2 linked regions of the Homo sapiens genome follow. The protein of the gene in region 1 binds, or shares a complex with, the protein of each later gene. Each region holds a gene or a part of one and is shown on either strand. Other genes may lie near its edges.

Evidence for each region.
Region 2: SMC2 (region 1) and NCAPH share a complex: the UniProt entries of both Homo sapiens proteins name them as parts of the condensin complex.

Annotation. Positions count from the first base shown.
Region 1 is NC_000009.12:104,139,216-104,141,985, reverse strand, and holds the end of SMC2 (structural maintenance of chromosomes protein 2), read right to left. Parts: coding exon 2,671-2,770; 3' UTR 567-2,670; downstream 1-566. UniProt on the Homo sapiens protein: Central component of the condensin complex, a complex required for conversion of interphase chromatin into mitotic-like condense chromosomes.
Region 2 is NC_000002.12:96,352,653-96,356,411, reverse strand, and holds part of NCAPH (condensin complex subunit 2), read right to left. Parts: intron 3,107-3,759; coding exon 3,015-3,106; intron 2,230-3,014; coding exon 2,024-2,229; intron 1-2,023. UniProt on the Homo sapiens protein: Regulatory subunit of the condensin complex, a complex required for conversion of interphase chromatin into mitotic-like condense chromosomes.

The sequences.
Region 1 (2,770 bases):
TGTGTTCTGTATCTAGAGTTCAGGGGTTAATTACTTTCGCTGACTTCATCTACTAAGTAAGTCTGGGGACCTCTTTCTCCAGGTCCTCGTTTATCCCTTCTGAGACGTCTCCTTCACTTTCTGGAAGCTGTGGTTAGCCCAGATCCCATCTTTTAGTTCTCCAGACCAGAAAGACCCCAGGCTTTCCACTGCAGCCTTAGCTGTCCTACAGCTGCATCATGACTATAGCTGGTACTTAGGTTAAAAACATTAACCTTAGCTTGTGCCTGTCTCTTCCTCCGTATTTTATCTCCCATCCAAAATCTTTCTAGTTTTTCTTCAGTTTCCTGAACTCTCAGGTAGTTGTTTCTAGTATTTTGCTCAGAATCTATATTTATCATCTGTGGGAATGTTGGCCTTTAGATTATGCCACCCTATTGGAAGAGAAAATTTCATGTCTTTGCTTTGCATTTGCTGTGAGCTTACTTGAAATGCCAAAACCGCCACCACCACAATGAATCCTCTCTTCACATGGTTGAGGTTCTTCTTTAAGGTAACATTCACGTTGTACATACTGCTCATACAGGTATTTTTCTTAAATTTATTCTGTACAATAAATACAAATGTTCAAGCTGTCAGTGACGTAGTATATCTTAGGTTCTGGAGACTGACAAGATTTGTCCATGGGCCCTGACACTCCTAACTGTATTATCACCCTGAGCAAGTTTCCTAACTTTTCTGCTCAACTCACTCAATTCCTCGATTACACCATGCTGACAACAACAGTATTTACCTCACTAGGTTACTCTGAGGATTAAATATGACAATACATACAAATGAGAACAGCAGCTAATGTAAAGAAAGAGCTTGTTAAATATTAGTTAACTCATATTACTGCAGATGTGTGAAACAAATGTCCCCAATCCCCTTAATGTCTTCCCTCTAATGAAAAAAAGTTACAACAATTTAATACATGTTTGAGGGTTTTCAAAGATCAAGATTATACAAGACAAAAATCAGGAACGCACACAAGCAAAACATTTTTAGCAGAGAAAAGGAAATGAGTACGTAAGCCAAAATAGTCAAACTCCCAAATTATTTTTAAAACGTTGGCTAAAACAGCAATGAAGTACCACTTAATAACTAACTGTTAAATCAGAAATATTAAAATTAACAGCAAGTACTGACTAATTTGTATACTATGGTATACTTTAATATTGACAGTGTGAATTGGTAACTGTTTTGGCACAGTCTGTAATACATTTGAAAGGAAACAAAAAAACTATATTTGACATTGGACTTTCTGTAACTCAACATTTACAGCATTATTTCCTCTCCCCTCCACAGTGGACAGAACTAATTCCAGATTCAATCCTTTCCAATGTGTCCCATAATATCAATTACTGCATGTTTTCTGACATCTCATATGTATGGAGAATGAAGGGTGGGAAATGTCAAGCCCAGGGCCAGGAAGTACGGCCATATATCAGGGGAAGTATGATAATAACACTAAGGAAATAAGACTAAAAAATCAAGAAGAGATGTGGGGCCAAAATAACACATGGAAGATCAGATTACATCATGTCAGACCTTTCATGATTCAGTTTGGGGTCACTGTTCTAGTGATGACGTACCAAAAACTGTAGACAGTATTCTCATGGTGTTCGCTAGTGTCATCTTTCAAGTTCTAAAGGAATTTCATCCCTTTGAACTGGAAAGCGGAAGACAAATAATCATCCAACTTTTGAGTTATTTTGGTGGAACAGATGGATTGAGTTATTTATATTTATACATATATATATCAGACTCAGGGAAAAATAAATTTGGTTTAGTCTACTGGCACCTACATTCTTGTTTACCAATAGGTTGTTAATGACTGGATTATGAAAAGGCTGACAAAAATCTTGGAAAATATTAACAAACTTCAGATAAATTTGCAGCAGATAGTACCACGCAACACACCTCCTAAGCTTTGATTTAAAAATACTTACACAGCTTAAAAAAACAAAAACATTAAAGTCGTAGAGACCAATTATTAAGCGTATAGGAACATGATATTCATGTATCATTAAAACGTAGAGACCAATTATTAAGCGTATAGGAACATGATATTCATGTATCATTAAAATAAGGATTCTTTCAAGATCTGTTTCCTATCTCAGTCTAAATCAGGGGTCTGGAGTTGTGGCCTTAAAAAACTAGCCTCAAACGGCTCCATGCATGCATAATAGCTTTATATGTGTTCCCTTTGTTGGTCCAGTTACCTGATTTATAATTCTTCCTTACCTGAATGACTTTAGAAAACACATTAATATTGCCTTAGGAATTAAATCAATTAAACACTGATGATCAGCTACATTTATCATGTAATTTAATCTGCTTTTTTGTATATTAGCTTTTACATATAGAATCGGGTATCTCAGGATCCCTAATATATAAAAGACCCGCATAAGAAAAAAACATTTGATGATATGCATAAAATCACAACCACAATAATTGGACCATAATTAGACTAGTTAAGAGATGAGGAATATATGCTCATTTGTAAGCGATAAGTGATTATATAAAGAGAAAACATGGGTTAAGTAACACAGTAACATTAATTTTTGTATATAAACAAATTAGTTATCTCAAGTCCTTAAAAGTTTACATTTAAAAAAACAGGTCAAGATGAAGAAATAACTTTGTAGTTTAAACTTCCACATGTGCTCCTTTGGGTGGTTTTGCCTTGGATTTTGCTTCCTTTGAAATCTTTCCATTTTGACATTGAGTAAATCTGGCTACTGTAGAA
Region 2 (3,759 bases), on another chromosome or scaffold:
ATTATCAACTGGTCCCAACCTTGCATTTTATGGATGAGAAAACAAAGACCGCAAAAGGTGATAACATTGCCCCACATCTCAGGGCTAGTAACGGCAAGATCAGATCTACTCCAGATCAAACACTCACTGAATTCCCAGGAAAGGCCAGCGATGTGGCAAGGGGAGGGGATTTAAGGATGGGTAAAATCTGAGACTAGAACTGCAGCCTCCCACGCCTAATGTACTAGGTAGGATAGAGTCTAAGATTTTGTGCTGTTTGGAATAGGGGAGAGAAGTGGAGACATTTGTTCAAAATAACCAGCAGAAAACATCTTCCAGAAACCAAATAAAAGTCATGGAAGCCCTTTGTTATTGTCAGTCCCTCAGATGTCACCTCACTGTTTAAGGAAAGTGATAGCTTTTCTCTGACATTTGAAAATGATGTTTTTAAGAGTTCATCCCATCAACCTATCATTTCTCCCTTCTTAGAAGACAGGATGGCCAGGCGCAGTGGCTCACGCCTGTAATCCCAGCACTTTGGGAGGCCGAGGTGGGAGGATCATGAGGTCAGGAGATCGAGACCATCCTGGCTAACATGGTGAAACCCCGTCTCTAATAAAAAAATTAGTCAGGCATGGTGGCGGGCGCCTGTAGTCCCAGCTACTCGGGAGGCTAAGGCAGGAGAATGGTGTGAACCCGGGAGGCAGAGCTTGCAGTGAGCAGAGATCGCGCTGCTGCACTCCAGCCTGGGCGACAGACCGAGACTCTGTCTCAAAAAAAAAAAAAACAAAAAAACATAAAAACAAAAAAGACACGATGAGAATGGGGCAAAATTGCAGCCATGTGAACAGTACAATTCCGGAGAGCAGGGTGCTACTGAGCCTGGATGGGCAGTGGCGCCTTGATAATGTCTTTAAAAGACATTATCAGCCTAATCGTTTCCCACAAGGGCAGACAAAATGAGCTTAGGAAAGACATCCGAGCAGGGTCTTGAAGAGATTTTTGTCATAGCGGGAAATTATACTAAGCAACTTCTAAGGTTTTACTCAAAACCAGCTTGGCTGTCCCCAATCCCAGTTCTGCAAAGCTCTGTTACAGACATAGGAGTTAACAGAGGGACTGTTCACTCTAATCTCATGAAATCTCCTACCCCCAGGCCCATTGAAGACCTTTACAGGACCATGACATTAAAGTGTTGTGAGACCCTGCTTCCAAATCATATTTAGAATTAAAACAATACTAACCTATTAAGTACATAAAGGCCAACCAAGTTCTGATTATTTTTATGATGTTTACTAGGGTAATCAAAAATTTAATTACTAAACCAATTCTTCTTCTTCTCCTCCAAATATTCTCAATTTATTGGTTGGTTTTGTTTTCCCTGCCTTGCTCGTCCCCAGTCTGCCCATCTGGTAACCCAACACTGCCTAACCCCCACTTGCTTACCTTTCAGGTGGTAAATTGGTGGCTTAGAGTCACCAACAGCCACACTATAAGCAATGTGTACAAAGGGAGCATGCTCTCTGCTACCAAAATGCACGTGGTAACAACAGCCACATTGACGTAATTACTAGATCCCAGGTGCTTTGTTCCAAACGCTTTACATTGTTCTAATCCTTACAAACTCTTGCAATGTCAGTTTTATAACCAAAGTGGCTAAGCCGACATTCAAAGCCAGGTGTGATTCCTCTGAGTCAGAAAGGCTCAGCTGAAAAGCTCAGCTGATGTGTATGACACAGCACACCAGCCCAGCCAATCAGACATCAAATTCAATCACCCCAGCAGGAAATCTGTTAAGAACTGATAGTGCCCAGGCATGGTGGCTCACACCTGAAATCCTGGCACCTTGGGAGGCCAAAGCAGGAGGATTGCTTGAGCCCCAAGAGTTCAAGACCAGCCTGGGCAATGCAGTGAGATGCCCGTCTCTATTTTTGGGGGGGGAAAAAAAAAGAAAGAAAAATTTTTTAATTAGAAAAAAAAGAAAAAGAAAAAAGAACCAATGGAAAACTCCTATAGAAACACTTTCGGACTCTGAGAGCCTTACTGGCAGCTCTGAACCTGGCAGGGCTCCTTCCAGCTCCTGAACTCTTCATGATCCCCAACTGCGGTGTGGTCAGGTTCATCGTTGGCATCAAAGTCATCCCCCAGGGACCCATCGGGGAAGTCTCCACAGTCACTCTCGTCAACTTCAGCATTGATGTCAAATACCTGGTCATTCTTCTTAAACTTGTCTACCAGGGCCGACACAGACTGGAGGGACAAAAGAGGGTTCTGTAATTCTCATTCCTATAACCACCCCAAATCACCACTGGAGGGACAGCCTTCTCACCCTTAAATTTCAGTTTCCAGCCTCCTCCTTCCCCTGAGCCACCCTTCCCTTTCCCATCCCCTGCCTGCCTGGGCCAAGACTCTCACGATAGTACAGTGAGGGGGAAGTTTATATTGTGCAGCACAGGAGGAAGCTGCATTGTTGTCAGGCACATTTTGTAAAACATGAAACAGGATTCTGTACCCATTAACTACATGTTTGCAGAAAACAGTTTTCCATGGAGATCATTTATTTTGGAAATTGTAGTAAGTAGGCTAAAGGGGGCCATGCTAAAAATACACAGAGGAAAGCTCTACACATGACAATTTCTCAGGAAACTCTGTGCCAAGGGATTCAACCCCAAAGAGCAGGAAATTCCTCAAGCTTGACGGCAGCCTAAGAGATTCGAGGCCACTGGGATAACCACATTCAAGAGTAAATCTAATTATAAATGTTCACTGATTAATGCCAGGGCCGCCTTACCCTAGGATAGCAGAAGAGAGGACATAAAGCTGATCCTGGAACTCACTTACCTCTAGAATAGTCCTGCTGGGGTTCACAACCCTACCCTCCTCCCTCAGGGTTTTTGTCCCTACAGAAGTGCCAAAGGAAATATTTTCTGTACTCCTGGCTAAATAAAGATGATGCCACAGTTTTGGTTCCCATTGGGCAGGACCACTCTTGAGCCAACTAACTGAAACCATGAGCCACTAAAACTTGACCACACCTCATTATGTGTTTCACTGTCCCACTGTGTAAACTGGAACCCGGCCAGGGAAGGGCAGATCTGGCGATCTTCTGCACACTGCTGCAAGGGCGCTGGAGAGGATAGCAAGATCACAAAGAGAGATTAGAAGGGGGTCAAGTGCATTCCTTACTCCCTTCAGAATGATACTGAGTGGGACGAGAGATGAGAGGCACAGTTACCTCACTGTCCTCCAGCAAAGGCTCAAGTATCATCAGTGGCTGGCTAGCTGCCAGTCTGTGTCCCTGCCTCTTCTGGGAGCGAGCAGATGCGTCGGCCACACCCACGCTGGAGTGAGGCTATGCACTGTCATCGCACAAATTAGTAAAATACTAGAGGAGAAACCTAAAGCACAGACATTCGATTCTGAAATGAATTCTGTGACCTATGCTATAGCTGGGAAATCAAACGCTTCGTCTTAAAAATACACCAAGTACATAGGCAATCATGTAATGGTACTTTAACTTATTTTTAGTCCCAAACTAGAGAAGACTTACTTCAGGGGATTAGAGCCCCAAATGAGAGCACAAACTTGGAAAATAGATCGTTAGCACAAAAACTATACTAAACAAAATTGAGGCAAGAATAGAAATGACAAGAATGGGAGCTAACAACTGCCCAGCCTGGAGGGGAAGTATTAATTTCATTCAACACATAAAAATGACCGCACTTGAGATGAAGATCAGCGAGAGTACGAACACTGCATTGGAAATGTGCAGGAGGGGGC